2 separate regions of the Homo sapiens genome follow, and region 2 is linked to region 1. The links come from fine-mapping of genetic effects on gene expression. Tissue or cell type: whole blood. Region 1 holds a variant in brackets; the other region holds the start of a gene. All regions are shown on one strand. Distances are between the middles of the regions.

Evidence for each region. PIP is the estimated chance that this variant, and not a neighbour inherited with it, causes the effect.
Region 2: it holds the start of HNMT, and the variant in region 1 is fine-mapped to the expression of HNMT in whole blood (TOPMed, PIP 0.94).

The regions. Positions count from the first base shown.
Region 1 is chr2:138,040,089-138,048,714 of GRCh38, forward strand. LOC107985948 (a long non-coding RNA gene) reads right to left here and starts at 3,650. Exons shown (of 3, transcript XR_001739719.2): 1 at 3,475-3,650. It overlaps LOC105373636 (a long non-coding RNA gene), which reads right to left. Exons shown (of 3, transcript XR_923367.2): 3 at 5,392-6,722. The variant G/A (reference allele first, on the strand shown) is at 4,913.
Region 2 is chr2:137,960,114-137,968,739 of GRCh38, forward strand. It overlaps HNMT (histamine N-methyltransferase), which reads left to right and starts at 4,360. Exons shown (of 6, transcript NM_006895.3): 1 at 4,360-4,515. The coding sequence starts at 4,379.

The DNA.
Region 1 (8,626 bases):
TTTGGAGCCTGTCAGACCTGAGTTTAAATCCAAGCAACACCATTGACTGTGTAACCCTGAGCAAATAGCCTTGTCCTTTCTGTTTCTGTGGAATGAGATATCAATACCTATCTTCCCGGGTGATGGTGGGAATCAAATTAGGTGATGTCTATAAAGCACCTGTCCCAGTACAAAGACTCAACAGATGGAAACTACTTTTATTATTATTGCTAAACTCAGTGAGGTCCATTTGTCAAAATAGTCTTGATTCTAGCTAGAAGCTGAGGATTATTTCAGTCTATGGACACCCAGACCCAGAGAGCCAATTTGAATAAAGTCACCAATTTGGCAGACTTGGGTTTATTTTCTTCTCTTCCCAACTCACAGTGAGCACAGATATCTTTTTAATAAGGAATCTGGAGCATTTCTGGGAGTTTACAAAATAAGGTAGAAAGTAGCCTGGGTGCGATGAACATAAAAAATAGAGGGAACACAAAGGGAACCTGGAATCAGTGGGAAACTTCATTTTCTTTAATTAGCATATTTAAGTGAAGCTTAGAAGCTGCTCCTTCCCTGAAACATTGCATTTTATTAAAAGCTGTTTAGAGCTCATAACCATTCTGCTGATTTTCTCAAAACACGTTCTCCTTACAGGCCGGTGCTAAACTGTGCATATGAAATGAGCTCAGCTTAATGTTGTGTTAAAAGAATTTGGTCTCCAGAGCTGTCTCTCTTCTTAATAATATGTAATCATACTCCATCTATTTAGTTTTCATTTAACTTGCCCCATGCAGGCAATGAATCCAGTTTAATTAAATGTGCCTTTAAATAGTCGAACGGCACTCATTTGCACCTAGCAAGCCTCCCTTTCATCCTATTAAGACCCCCTCAAGATATAAAAACCCAATAAAGAGGCCATGTAAAATGTGTGTCTGATAATGCGAGGGAAGTCTGACATTTGCTCCATAATTTAGTGAAACCTGCAGTAGCTTTTGGGCACATTGTCTCAGCTGAATGGAGCCGGTGTGGGGCCTTGGGTTCTGGAAGGCTGTATCTGGATGAATCGTCATAAATAGCACATTTGGAGATGAGCTGGTGATCTTCTGGGTTGGAGCCAGCAGCAAAGGAAGTGAGGCCACTGAGACACCAAACAGTTACCCAGGGAAGCTCTCAGAGGGTCTTTAAAGAGGGCCTGGCCTGTGCCTCTGGTCATACTCTCTGGGGACAATGGGTGGATGGGGCTGCAGCTTTCCCTATTACAAGATGTGCTAAGAAGGAAGGGAAACCTATCCTGAACACTGACAGCAGAAAATTAGGCAGTATTTTGCAGTCAAGAAGGGGTAACAGTAGAATCCATAATTTTTACAGTGACCATCCTAATCTCTGAGTCCCTCAGTTAAGGACTGGATTCAGTTCAATCTAGTGCTTCATGATTCATGCAGGTAACACATTATTTCTCCAGCAACTGCCAAGTGCTAGCCCCTGTTACAGACCAGAGACACAACAAGCAGATGACAAGCAGATAATTAGATGGTGTCAGGTGGTGAGAAGGAAGAGAATACATCAGGTTAAAGGGTATGGAGGTTAATGGAGTGGGCAGTTGTAGGAGTGGGGTGCACATATTGTCAGCGGAGACCTCATTTGTTAGGTACTATTTGGTAAGCTCAGATTTGACACACTCTTGTTGGTTATGTGCTCAGGGCTAAGTTCTAGGGGCTTTTACACTGTATGTCAGAGACTGTCTACAATGCATCACTCCATTGGCTAACTTAGTTGACTGTGTTGATCGGTTGGGGCCCCCTTTCTTTATTTGTGTCCTTCTGCAACAGCATGCAAAACAGGATTTTTTCCAGTTGTTCGCCCAGGGATTTTTAAATGCCATGTTTTATTGTTCCTTATGAGTTCAATGTATGTAAGCCCTGCCCGCCTAGTGAGAAAATAAGCTCTTTAATGTTGAGAACTCAGCCTTTTAGTTGTCTATTTCCCACCCAGCAGGAGTGCCTTTTTAATACAGGTTAACACAAACTTCAAACTGTAATATGATTTAAAAATTTATATTTTGGTACTTTATGCTTTGAAAAATTGGCCTGTGTATCATCCCAATAAACCTGTGTGGTGAATAATATCTATAACATCCAACTGTGTGGTATTGGTCAAATTCATTCATTCATTTATTCATCCATTTAACAAATATGATTTCAGTTGCATGATTAATTTCCTTGGAATTCAACTTTCTCATTTAAAATTTAGGGACATTAATGCTTGTTTTGCATAATGTGAAAATGATACAGTAAATAGGTTAAATAACTACCACAATGTACATAATAGGTGCTCAATAAATAAGAGCTATTTATGAGTTCAAGCATGTGTAGGATGATGAGTGGGAGCAGGAGATATGAGACGTCATGCAAAAGAAATAGCTAGAGGCCAGATCGTGATGGACTTAAAAACCTAATTGCAATGCGGGTCACTTGAAGTATTTTAAGCAAGGAAGTGGCATGATCATATGATTATACTGGTGACTGCATAGAGAACAGATTAAAAGAAGACAAAAGCAGAAGCAGAAACACCATTTAGATGGGTGTTGCAGTGGTTCAGGTAGGGAATGATGGTGGTTTGGCTGTGATAAAGGAGATGAAGAGAAGTCAGCGGACACAGAAGGTATGGTTCAACAGTGGAATGGACAGGACTTGCTAGTGAATTGAATCTGAGAAGTAAGGGAAAGGGAAGAGACTCCCAGCTTTCCAAGTTAAGCAATCAAATGTTTTCTGAGGGAAGTAACACTCAAGGACAAATAGGTTTGCCACTTAGTTTCCACACATCACACCTAGATTCCTAATGACAGCATCCGCCTAAAGCTCAGAAGATAATGCTGAGTGAGAAAATAGATTTCCTGACTTTAATATCCCATGGTATTTAAAGCCATGGGAGGCGATGAGATCACCTGGAGAGAAACTGAAGTGTGAGAAGAGAGGAGGACTCTGGTGAGATCTCTGAAGAACTGCACAGCTTCAGGTTTGCATAAAGGAGGAGAAAGTGAGGATTGGCCAGCGGCACAGAAGAAAAATCACAGATGTTAGGAAGAGAGAGTGATTCAAAAGGAGGGTCATTTTTTATTCTGTCAAAACCATCTGAGAGGTAAAGTTAGTTGAGGGTTTAGCAGAACAGAGGTCATTGAAGACCCTGATAAGAGAAAATTCAGAAGACAAGAGGAAAAACCAGTTTGGAATAAATTTGAGAATAAAGGGGAAATAATAAAGTGGAGCTATTTTTCAGGAAAGAATTATTGAGACCTACTACATTCCAGGCACTGCTACAGATGCTGGGACTGAGCAGTCAATTGACAGTGTCTCAAGTTACTTCTGTTGTAGAGGGAAGAAAGACAATAGACATACAAATAAATATGTGATATGTCAGCTGGAAAGAATAATGCAGCATTAAGCCAGACTTAAAGGGACTTAAAGGAGTGCTGAGTGGATATGGTTGTTGTCTTACCTAGGGAGGTCAGAGAAGTTGGCTAGGGAAGTCCTCTCTCATGATGAGGTGTCGGAGCACAGACCTATAGAAAATGAGAGAGAGCATGCCCCATGAAAGTATCTGTGAAGACAATAGCAAAGACTTGGAACCAACTCAAATGTTCATCAATGATAGACTGGATTAAGAAAATGTGGCACATGTACACCATGGAATACTATGCAGCCATAAAAAAGGATGCGCTCATGTCCTTTGCAGAGACATGGATGAAGCTGGAAACTATCATTCTGAGCAAACTATCGCAAGGACAGAAAACCAAACACCACATTTTCTCACTCCTAGGTGGAAACTGAACAATGAGAACACTTGGACACAAGGCGGGGAACATCACACACTGGGGCCTGTCGGCGGGTGGGGGATGGGAGAGGGATAGCATTGGGAGAAATACCTAATGTAAATGACGAGTTGATGGGTGCAGCAAACCAACATGGCACATGTATACATATGTAACAAACCTGCACGTTGTGCATGTTTACCCTAGAACTTAAAGTATATATATATATAAAAATCTGGGAAGAGTACATTCCAGGCAGAAGAGGCAGTACATACAAGAGACCTGAAGTGGCTTCATGAATAGCATTGATAAGAAACAACAATGAACACCCAGTGTGGCTTGAGTAGAATGCATGAAGTAAAAAGGGGTAGTAGGTGAGGTCAGCGTGGTGAAAGGGGGTGGTAGAGTAGACCATGTCTGGCTTTAGAAATCTTTTTTCAAAGACAGTCTTTCCCTCTAAGTTGCAAGGTAATTAGTAGGTTTTCATCAGAAGCTGCTGCAAGGTGGACCAGGTAGAAGCAGAGAGAGCCATTGGGGACTATCGTTGTCATCCAGGTAAGAGATAATAGCAGCTTGCACCAGATGGTAGTAGTCAAATGGTGAGAAAAAATCAAAATCTGAAAATATTTTAAAGCTAAAGGTAGTGTAATTTACTAATAAACTGGATGTTAAGTATGAGTGATGGAAAAAGTCAAGGATGACTACATAAATGATTTAGGAAGTTGACCGTGAAGAAGGGTTCAAAATAGTAGACAATGGCTGGAAGGGACAGGGAACAAGGTGAGCAGTTTAAGAATGTGTTTGCCTGCAAATGAGAAGAATCCTGTATTAGTCAGCTAAGCCTGCTGTAACATAATACCACAGGCAGGGTGGTTTAAGAACAGAAATGTGGCCGGGTGTGGTGGCTCATGCCTGTAATCCCAGCAGTTTGGGAGGCCAAGGTGAGTGGATCACAAGGTTAGGAGTTCAAGACCAGTCTGGCCAAGATGATGAAACCGCATCTCTACTAAAAATACAAAAATTAGCCAGGCATGGTGGCAGGCGCCTGTAATCCCAGCTATTTGAGAGGCTGAGGCAGGAGAATCACTTGAACACAGGGGGCAGAGGTTGCAGTGAGCTGAGATC[G/A]CATCACTGCACTCCAGCCTGGGTGACAGAGTGAGACTCCATCTCAAAACAAACAAACAAACAAACAAAAAAACAAGAAATTTGTTTTCTAACAGTTCTGGAGCCTGCAAGTTCAAGACCAAGATGGCAGCAGGGTAGGTTTCCTCTGAGGCCTCTCTCCTTGGCATCCAGGTGGCTGTCCTCTTGCTGTCTTTTCACATGGTCGTCCCTCTGTGCACGCACATCCCTGGTGTGTCTGTGTGCTGAATCTCCTCTTCTTCTAAAAACACCAGTCTTATTGGAATAAGGCACATCCTAATGCTGTCATTTTAACTTAATAACCTCTTTAAAGGCCCTATATCCAAATGCAGTCACATTCTAACAGTAAGACACTGTGAGTTAGAGCTTTAACACATGGATTTTGGGGAAAACATTATAAAATGTGTATCAATGTGATTTTGACTTAGTAGCCATAGAAGAAGATGAGGAATGACATGAAAGTGAACCACTCTCCCTCTTTTCAGACTGAAATATCATCTAAGATCAGGATTTGCAGTGACCCACGTGGCAGTCAAGGGAGAGAGTGTCTTGCAGCAAGGCTTTTGGATTGTTCTTGGACATAAATGGTGAATTATACAAAGAGGAGTTTTTGGAAATATTTGCAGGTTTGGTATGGAGGCCACATGTCCTTTTAAGGAATCAGGTTCTAGAAATTGAAACCTACAGATTTTGAACTTGCCACTTGTACCACACACATTTTTCTAAACCTAGTCTCAGATTGAGAAAGAGAGACAGAAAGAGAGATCAGGAAATAAATATAATAAAAAGTGAATGAAAGTGCAATTTTGACCTAAGGACCTTAAGCAGAAAAACAGGTTACTCAGCTACTCCTTTTTTAAATAACGAAAATGAAATGAGAGAAAGTAGATGGTCATTATTATTACTATTATCACAGCTGTCATTCCCTCATTGATGCCTCGTTAAGATGGATTTTAGTAGATCACAATCTAATATACTACTATATTGAAGACACTTTTTTAAAAAAGCAAAAATAAATCAATAAAATGTTAAAAGACCACTGATGAAATCATGGAGTGGATTAATTAGGGTGTAATATTCAGATCATATTCTTGAGTTGGGCATTTTTTAAAATGTTGTTTTTCCTGTATTCATGTTTCTAGGGCGTTGGCTCTGACTTTAATCTGTCAGGATTCAAACCCTAACAGATCCTCATTCGAACATTTACCATGTGACTCAGGACAAGTTATTAACCTAAATTCCAATTTCCTCACCTATAAAATGGGAATAATGAGAACACTGATCCCAGAGAGCCACTATGGTGATTCCATGAGCGATGTGGGTGAAGTGCTGGGTATGGTGTTTGGCATAGAGCGAGTGCTAAATAAATAGTTTTAAACAACTGCTAGTGAAGGAGAGAAAAAGAGAACCTGAGTCATTAAGGTGATGTGTGAGTAGGATGCAAGCCAGGACAGAAGGTTACAGGGCCATATGTGGGTACAAATGGCCATGCTGAAGTAGGGACTCTGATATATTCCTCATTCTTACTCGGGGCAGTGATGAAAAAGGGAGAGCCTTGTTCAAAAAGCTGGACAACAGTGTCATTACAGGGGAAAGCATTTACCTTTTTTCCATGTACATCCTTTGTTCAACCACATGCTTCAAGGTTGCACATTCAAAACATACCTTCAAAGATTACAGCTTTTAGAGTTTCAAGACAGCAACAGATGAGCATTCAACCATGTGGGGGTTCTTCATAGGCCCTGTTTTCCTTGTTCTACTGTAATCCATAAATGGTTGGAAATGCAGACCACTGAAGAGAATTAATTAGGACTTTTCAGATTTAATGGGAACAATTCAAAGAGTCTAAGTTTCTTTTCCATCCAGCGTGAGTTTCCTATTTAGTGAAGTAAAGCTCAACTTTTATCAATAGTTTCATTCTCTTGTGGTATGTAAAACCTACACACACTCAGAGGCACCCAGAGGAAACTACACTCTGAGTTATTAGTAAATTCTCTCCAAGTGAAGCTGCCAAACACAGAAGCTTAAAACTAGATACAGCTTCTCAGGAAGCAGATCAAGCCCAGACTCTGCCACTGAGATTGAATTAACAGGAGCTCACAGGGCTCTCTTGGATAAGCCACATGGACCCAGGGTTGTTAATTTGGGAGGTTTATTAAATAGCGGATTAGGATTGAAAGCGAATGCATCAAAATGTAAGAAGCCCTAGTTTGTTGAAATGAGAAAATTGATACTGAATGAGGTTATCTCTTGAATCTGGGCAGTCTTGTTTTGGCTACCCCACTGCTCAACTCCTAATTAGTAGGGCAGAAAAAACAAGTCCACGTAGGCTAAATGGCCAAGAATAGATGAAAATCAGCTAATAATATAGTAATTAGGAACAAAGCCAAAGCAGGACCTGCAGATGCCCAAAGTTGAAGAGATGCAAAGAAAAGTGTTGCTATCCAAAAAAAAAAAAAAAAAAAAAAAGTACTTGTCAGAACAAGTTTTTCAACAGCATATACTTTTAGACTAAGATTGAGGATGAAGGTGACAGGAAAATGATTAGCCCCATAGTTAGGATTACTTATATTTAGAAAAATATTTGCAAAGCTTTCCTTCTCCTTTCATATCATAGCGAACACTGAAATTGTGTTGTTTTCCAACATAGCTGCTAATATTTGCAAAGTAATAATTTTGCAAAGGAAACAGCTTGAAATAAAGCATGCCTGATGCTTAGGAAGAAAGCAAAGAATGCTATCTTTGAGTAGTTACTATAGGTAGCTTTTGATCAGAACGAAGTGGCACAGAAACATCCGATTCCAGTCTCACTGGTGCTGTTTACTCCATGTGACCATTATCAGGTCTCACTTCTGCACTGGCTTTAGGATACTTCTACATCATATGAAAGTGCTGTACAATTTCCAAGTTCCTTCTAAGTCAAACATTCTGTTATTCTTCCCTCCAAAAGATCCTTCAAGACAATGGAAGACTAAATAGCAACTAGAACTTGCTTTGAAGTAAGGCTGACATTATCTGCAAACAGATTAAATCACTATGCTTATATTTTATACTGTTATGTATTTTCCCATTGCAGCTTCACAGTCTTCCCCAGACCTTATCTGTGTATATAGGCACACATGCATAACTGCCTTAACAGTAAAAACATGGTCAAAAATGTAAAAGTTCAGGATGCAAGTTTGATGACACACTTTATTTCTCCAAATTGAAATAAAACTAGATCAATCCCCTGGAAGAAGTTTAGAAAAGTGTTAGCCATCCTCTTCCCCTTTGATTTCCATGTCCAAAGATGGAGAAGCTGCCTTTCTAATCCTTCTGTTTCAGTTTCTTTAGCCAATGGGATTTTATTACCAAAAAATGTCACTGAAGAATCTGGCTGATAATGTCCAGCACTGCAGTTTTTCACTAGACCAATAATATAGTTTGGCTGTGTCCTCACCCAAATCTCATCTTGAACTGTAACTCCCATAATCCCTACATGTCCTGGGAGGGACCTGGTGGGAGGTCATTGAATCATGGGGGCAGGTTTTTCTCATGCTATTGTCATGATAGTGAATAAGTCTCATGAGATCTGATGGTTTTATAAAGGGGAGTTCCCCTACACAAGCTCTCTTGCCTGCCACCACATAGGAAGTGACTTTGCTCCTCATTTGTCTTCAGCTATGATTGTGAGGCCTCCCCAGCCATGTGGAACTG
Region 2 (8,626 bases), 80 kb before region 1:
TTTGTAATAGGGGGAAGCTGATGGAGGTACCACAAAGAGTAAATCCTACATTAAATTTGAAAAGATCTGTACAATTCCTGGCACATAGTAAGTGCTCAATAAATGGAATTCTGGTGTTATTGGTAACATATAGAGCTACTCAATAATGAAAAGGATGGAGGACATCTGATAGCAGAGAACAACTCAATAGTGTAAATGTTCAAGCATATTCTTAATTATTTAAAAAAGAACTGAAAGTCTACTTCAGGCAACACATCACGGGAAGTAGCTGTGACTCAGTTCCTGTCTTTATGAGCTAAGTCACATGGGGACAAGCAGGGGAGTTAAGGCAAATATATTAAACAACAATAACACAAGGATGAATGCTTGCAAGAATCTCAGAAATTACGAGCGTGAGTGCTGATTATTTTGAGGGAAATATGGAAGGCTATATGAAAGTGGTAGCATATGAAGAATAGAAAATTTTTCAATGGATGCGGTAAGAAAGGAAGCAGCATGTTACAGAAGGGACTATTATGAGGAGATGCTGTAGGCAAAAAAGCACAGGAATGTATCCAGAGAAGCAGCACAGTTTGAAGGGGATATAAATGCAAACTAGAGGTAAATGAGACACAATTCTGGATAATTATTGGGGGGGCTACAGAATGGATCTTGTACTTGACGTGGGGGTCAGTGGGGAGACTAAATATTATGAGAGAAAGAAAAGAGTGTCTTTATCCAAACTTACTTAAAAAAAAACATGAAGTTGACAGTGGCAATAAAATTGGTTAGGATCTGTGTGATTCCTAAAGCAGGAAAGCCAATAAAAAAAAAAACCACACACACTATAGTATAACTGGCCAGCCAAATGCAGAAGGTTGAAACCGCATCCCTTCTTTACACCATATATAAAAATTAACTCAAGATGGATTAAAGACTTAAATATAAAACCCAAAACTATAGAAACTCTGGAAGACAACCTAGGCAATACCATGCAGGACATACACATGGACAAAGATTTCATGACGAAGACACCAAAAGTAATTGCAACAAAAGCAAAAGTTGACAAATGAGATCTAATTACACTAAGGATCTTCTCCACAGCAAAAGAAACTATGAACAGAATAAATAACCTACAGAATGGGAGAAAATTTTTGCAAACTATGCACCTGACAAAGATCTAGTATCCATTATCTATAAGGAACTTAAACAAATTTACAAGAATAAAAAAAAGACATGAAAAAGTGGACAGAGGACATGAATAGACACTTTTCAAAAGAAGACATACATGCAGCCAACAATCATATAAAAAAAAGCTCAACATCACTGATCATTAGAGAAATGCAAATAAAAACTACAATGAGATACCATCTCACACCAGTCACAGTGGCTATTATGAAAAAGTAAAAAAATAACAGGTGCTGGCAAGGTTGTGGAGAAAAGGAAACACTTATACCCTGTTGGTCAGAGTGTAAATTAGTTCAACCATTGTGGAAGACAGTGTGGCGATTCCTCAAAGACCAAAAGACAGAAATCCCATTCAACCCAGCAATCCCATTACTGGGTACATACCCAAAGGAATATAAATTGTTCTGTTATAAAGACACATGCATGTAAATGTTTATTGCAGCACTATATGCAATAACAAAGACATGTAATCAACCTAAATGCTCATCAGTGATAGTCTGGACAAAGAAAATGTGACATATGTATATCATGGAATACTATGCAGCCATAAAAAATATGGGATCATGTCTTTTGTGGGGACAAGGATGGAACTGGAGGCCATTATCCTTAGCAAACTAATGCAGGAACAGAAAACCAAATACTGCATATTATCACTTATAAGTGGGAGCTAAATAATGAGAAAATATGGAAACATTAGATGGGAACAACACACACTGGGGCCTATTGAAGGTGGAGTGTGGGAAGAGGGAGAGAATCAGGAAAAATAACTAATGGGTACTAGGCTTAATACCTGGGTGGTGACATAATCTGTAAAACAAGCCCCAATAAAACATGTTTACCTATGTAACAAATCTGTGCATGTACTCTTGAACTTAATTTTTTTTTAAAAAAAAGCACAATAAGTGAAAAATAAAGAGAATCTCAAGTAAGGTGGAAACAGTGGAGACGGAAAGGAAGTCCTCACTGGGATCCACATGAAGAACTGGCTCTGTTGGAGAATATTTGACAGCAGGCAAGGGAGGTGATGGTCTCAGAAGACCAAGTTTCAGTTAAGGGAGGCCTTAACAGCAGCTTTCCAAGAGAAAGTCATGTCAGGAGTATTCCTCAGCAGAATAGCAAACAGAGACTCTTACTAAACTTTTATTCAATAGATGAATACATTATTGGCCATTTTTGGTTTTGGTTAAAGTGAAACAAAAACAGATAGATGTTACACATGAATGAATGAATGATTTGGGTTGAGCTCTAAAGAGAAAAATGGAAGATGGTAATAGAAGCAAAAGTTTGTCAGAGCCCATCTGAGGAAAGGGAAGGCTGGTTGGATAGAGATGTGAGTAAAGAACCAGCAAAGACCTTATCTAAGGATGAGTGAAGGGCACAGGAGCTAAATCAGGGCTTGGCCAAATAAGGCCTGTGGCCAAACCCAACCCTACCAACCTGATTTGTGCAGCCCATGAGCTACCAATAACTTTTATGTTTTTATATGGTTAAAGTAAATTCAAAGAAGGATAATATTTCATGACATGTGAAAATGATATGAAACTCAAATTTCAATGTCCGTGAATAAAGTGACGACTGTTTTTGTCATTTTATATATATATATTTTTTTTGCAGAGGGACTGGCTTGCACTTTTTAAACATTAGTTATATTATTCTCAGTACAACCCTATAAGATAAAATTCATTCCCATTTTACTGATGAGCAAACTGCAGCTTATGTTTCAGCCAAAGTCAGACAGTTCATTAAGGGCAGAGTCATCCATGGCAATCTGCCTGTCCAGATATTACACTTTCCCCCGGGGTAAAAGCACTGGCTCTAAGAATAGTGAGAACAAAACATACTTATAAAAGGGAGTTGGGGGCTGGGAATGGTGGCTCACGCCTGTAATCCCAGCACTTTGGGAGGCCGAGGCGGGTGGATCACTTGAGATCAGGAGTTCGAGATCAGCCTGGCCAACATGGTGAAACCCTGTCTCTACTAAAAGTACAAAAATTAGCCAGGCGTGGTGGCGGGTGCCTGTAATCCCAGTTATTCGGGAGGCTAAGACAGGAGAATCACTTGAGTCCAGGAAGCGGAGGTTGCAGTGAGTGGAGATCGCACCATTGCACTCCAGGCTGGGCGACAGAGCGATACTCTGTCTCAAAAAAAAAAAGAGAGTTGGGAAGTGTTTTGAATGCTTAGAGGGCAGCTTGGGAACTCAATTAGAAGAAGGGACGGTTTAAGCAGACATATTTCTAAGAGACTTATATGAGTTAACTCATTTGATCCTCAGCACTCCTCCATGAGTTGGATGCTATTATTAACAACCCAATATTAGATAAAGGATGACCTTCTTAAAGACCTCTTCCCAGGAAAAAGACTGTGTGTGGGTACTCTGAAGCTTTGGCTCTTCTGGTGGGGACACCACTGGGTTTCCAAAGGCTCATCCAGCCAAGCGAAGTATCTATGACCTCGTCGTGTTCAGCGCGCTTAGGGAAGGATTCTATGGACTGCACTTTTACCCTGGTGTCCTGCATTCTTGCTCCAAGACTTCTCTTACCACTCTCATTCCCCTAAATGCAGCTTCTGACACCTTCTAGCTACGAGTTCTTGGGCTCCTCCTTCGTGACTTCCTTTTAAGATAATTTCTGAGTTACAACAAATCAGCATTTGAAGAAATGCAGCAGATAAGTTGAAAATTCAAGTGCTGAGGAATGTAAAGGCCCAAAACAATCCCGTAGAAAGCACAGAGGCAGATGACAGTCTTCCGTTAAAGATTTCACTGCTGTAGATTTCTGAGAGTGCTGTGTAGCTGTCCTCTTTATCCTGGTGTTTGCCACTTCGAACAGTCACTTTCCCACTTGGAACTTACTTGTGGCTTTGCTGACAAAACAGGAAGTGATTTGAATACAGTTTGTTTTTATGACCTTTCAACCTCAGGAATTTGAAAAGTTTTAGCAGTGGATTTACAGCCTTGCTTAATACTTCTATTTCTTACAAAACAACCGTATAGGGGTTAAAGTATCAGTGCAAAGTCCCGTTCAAATATTGACTCAGTAATGAGCTCTACAAGCCAGCCTTTGTGGCATGTTAAATTCAAAACAAGCTTAGCATTTTTTTTTTTTTTTTTGGATAGAAACTGGTGGGGGTGGGGAAAGAAAGAGGGAACTGGGAAGAGAAGGAGGGGAACTTAAACCTTGCTTCCTGCTCTGTCTTTCTCAGAAAACCAAATATGGCATCTTCCATGAGGAGCTTGTTTTCTGACCACGGGAAATATGTTGAATCTTTCCGGAGGTTTCTCAACCATTCCACGGAACACCAGTGCATGCAGGAATTCATGGACAAGAAGCTGCCAGGCATAATAGGAAGGTAACAAAAGGGACGTTGTTGTCAAAGGGACAAGCCTCAGACTGGCTGTGCGTCAGTGATAGATGGGTCTCGCTCAGCCTCGCAGGCTGGGCACAGGGATAAGGGCGAATTACTGATAGCAGCTCCCCGTCGTCCCCTCCTCGCTGCCCTGCCCTGCCTTTCTCCTGCAGTGCTTTGGTTCCACGTTTGCTTTGAACACTCAAAGGCTCCCATTTGTGTTGTATTTCCAGCTGCATAGAGATAAGCGTTAACCATTTGAAGGCACAAATCCATGTTCATTTGGGAAAAGATAAGATGCTAATCTTCGAACTCAGATTTTTCAGCCCTCCTCCAAATTTTACATCCCAAAAAAGTCCCAAAGGGAGTCTGGTATGCTTTTCATTAGAATCAAATATAAATAATTGCCAAAGTACGATTTGCCCTGAGGATTGAGTGCCTCAGTTCTCATAATATCCATTTAAATTAATTTTCCTTATCCATTGTTATAGTTATCACTCTCTTCCTCAAAATTGTCTTTTTCTTTCAGCTTAATATTAGCAATGTGTTCCTTAAAAAAAGAACCATTTTCCCATTATCAGTGAAACTCACTGGTTCCTATCCTTCTTGCAGAGTTCTTTTTTTTGGGTGATTAATGTGTTCAATTTGTGCCAGAGCTGATAAGCATTATGAGAGTAACAGATTCCACATGCTAAAGATAATCAAATCACCTATCTGGGGGTGATTTGCTGTAACTCATTCTACTTCAGGAAATAATAATGGAAAACTGGGAAGAAATGACTATGGATCCAATTTGCAAACAGCAAAGGAAAGTGGTATTTTATCTTTTGCTGAATTTCTCTATTGCAGGCCTGAAATTCTTTCACCAGGGCAGTACCTATGTCTGACCAGAGCAGGCATTATTAGATGTACATAAAATTTTATTTCCTTTTCTATTTAACATGATTCAGATTTTAAATGTTAGCTTTCAAAAAATAGGATATTATATATTAAAAATTAATATGTAATAGGATAAGGATGCAAACATCAAAGCAAATAGCAAATATAGAGAACTTCTTACCTAGGAACTAATTATAGTTAACCTCTTTGGGTTTCTTTGCTCATTTCTAAAGTTAAAGGTAATGAGTTAATTTCTCAATTCTTTTTCAGTACTAAAAGTATTTGCTCATGTCTGTAGCTTACCAGATCCTTGGTTTTCTTCAGCCATACACAGTTTGGTTTGAAGAGGTACCGTGGATGGAGATAACATAATCGATGATGAATGACCCCTTCCTTATCTTCAAAGTTTAAATCTAACTGGAAATATTATAAAATCTGTGAAAGACTGAAGAATTTTTAAGGGCACACTGTTTGTCTTATAACAGTAGTATATAGTTAGGAATGATCAGATTCAGTGTCATTTATTTTTTTCCTGAAGGTAATGTTTGAAATAAGATTTAGCTGAAGGACTTTTAAAATTGTTACTTAGAGTTGTCTATAAGTTATGAAGTACCAAAATGTGATTAGGATACTCTTTGTGTATGTTAGGGCAGGGTTTGTTGAGTTTGTGGCTCACTGTGCTAATTGAGTGTGGAGCGAGCCTATTAAATTTTTATTAAAGCAAGACATGCCATATTTTAAAACATCAAATGGTTCTAAAGTGTGTGGGGACTATAACAAACCCCACCCACTCCATTCTTGATTCCCACTCTCCGGAAGCAACCACTTTCAGCACTTTGAAATCTTTTAGTTATTTATGGAATTTTCTTTCATAATTCAAAATAACATGTTATTGTTCTATTTCTTCATTTCGCTGTATTAAAATAGCTAAGTAAGCATGCATATTTCCCACCCTATCATGTCACTATATGTAGTCAAAATTTTGGTTAAATAATTTGAGTGTTTATGTTATTTTGCCTATGTACATATTCTTAATAATTGAGCAATATATTCGACTATGCTTATATTTCCTTTTACGTACAACTTTTTGTTCTCCCTAGAGTTGACTATTGCCTTGATTTTGGTTTCTTTTCTTAGTTCTCCATGTACCTATTACTATTTTGATCCCCAAGCAGATATATTAATCTCCTCTCAATATATGCAAACATATCAAGGAATCTGTTTATTTTACCCCAAGGGAACAACTTTTCTGAAGCCCTCTGTTCTTTTTTTCAGTTTAGGAAGATCTGCTTTGGCCTGCTATACAACTATTAAGGAGGGAATTTATTTCACTTTCTGAGAATCATTTTCTTTCTCCATTATTTGATTCCCTGATTCTATATCTCATGCCTTTCTTTTCTTTGTTTCCTCGGTCCTTTGTTTCCTGAACAATTCTTTAAGAACTTTAAGAGTGAACGAGAGGTAAACTTTTTGAGACTTTGTATGTTTAAAAATCCCTTGGTTCTATGTTAATCGTTTGACTGGATATAGAACTCTATACTGAAAATGGTTTTGTATAATAGATCTAAAGGTACTTTTCCACTGTCTTTTAGATACCAGAATTGCTGTTAACAAATAAAATACTGGCCAGATGTGTTGGTTCACGCCTGTAATCCTAGCACTTCGGGAGGCTGAGGCGGGAGGATTACTTGAGCCTAGGAGTTTGAGACCAGCCTGGGCAACATAGCAAGATCCCATCTCTACAAAAAAGTGAAAAAGTTAGCTGAACAAGGCGGCATGCACATGCTACTCCAGACGCTGAAGTGGGAAGATCACTTAAGTCCGAGAGATCGAGGCTTCAGTGAGATATGGCTGAGACACTGCTCTCAGCCTGGATGACAGAGTGAGAACCTGTCTCAAACAAGAGAAAAAAATAAATCAAATGCTACTCAAAATTCTCATCCTTGGCATGTGGAATAACTTTTACATTGCTATGTGTTTTGTTTTCCCTATTTTGAACTTTTTAGAATCTTCTTACGTCTAGTATTCTGAAATTTTAAAATACTGAGCTGTGAAATGGTTCCTTTTTACCCATTTTATGGGTACTCCCTGGGCTATTTCAATTGAGATTCAGATCCTTCAGTTATGCGGAACTTTGGTAATCATTCTTCACCACTGTTTTCTTTTTCTGGAACTTTTATTCATCAAATACTTCCTGGATTGATTACCTAATTTTCTTATATTTCCAGTTTGCTACAACTTTCCTCTTTCAGCCCATGTATTAACTTTTTACTATTATATTTTTAATTTCCAAGAATGTTTTCTATAGCATTCTTTTCATCATTCCCAGATGTAATACCTTCTTATTCATTACAAAATGTTCCTCTGCTCTCTCTGCCTCTTTCCATCTCTGTTTCTTATGTTAGACAGCTCCCCAACCACCTAAAGAGCCTTGGTTTTCTATTCAATCAAATAATGAGGCACTAAAAGGTAGTCAGATTCTCTTTGTGTAAGTCAGGGCAGGGTTTGTTGAGTGAGTAGCTCACTGAATAATTGAGTGTGGACTCAGCTCTTTCCTGGGAGATCCTCAGATATAAAATCATGTTAACTTTATCACTGAGATGATTTGTTTCCCTATAGAGGAATTCTTCAATCCCCTATTTGAGGGTAGATGGTGGGGCAGGGCTTGGGGGCAGGAAAAATTATAGTAAATAACTATAAATAGTAAAGTTGGTTATTGTTGTTGCATATAAAACATTTAAATCCTTGGCTAGAAAATAGTAAGTTTTCAATAATTATTTGATGTCATTATAATATGTGAAATGGGATGAATAATAGTATCTAACTCATAGAGGAATTTCAAGGATTCAAAGAGTTAATTCACATAAATCACTTACATGTACCTAGAATCATAATAATTGCTAATATATGTGGAGTGCTTGTCATGTGCAGATACATTTCTAAGAGATTTGCATGAATTAAATCATTGAATCCTCACAACTTCTCCATGAATTAGAAACAGTTATTAATAATCCTACAAGAGAGATGATATTATTATCTTATTTCACAGAGATGTCAAATAACTTGCTCAAGGTAACATAACAGTAACCTGGGATTTCAACTTGGGTGCTCTGCTTCATAGCCTCCCTATGCTGTCATAGATGTAAGCATTTTAAAGAATGAACAAAAGGTGTAGATAGAAATGGATGTGTTAGGACTCAGGATTATGAGTTGGAGGATAATTAGAATTGAAGAA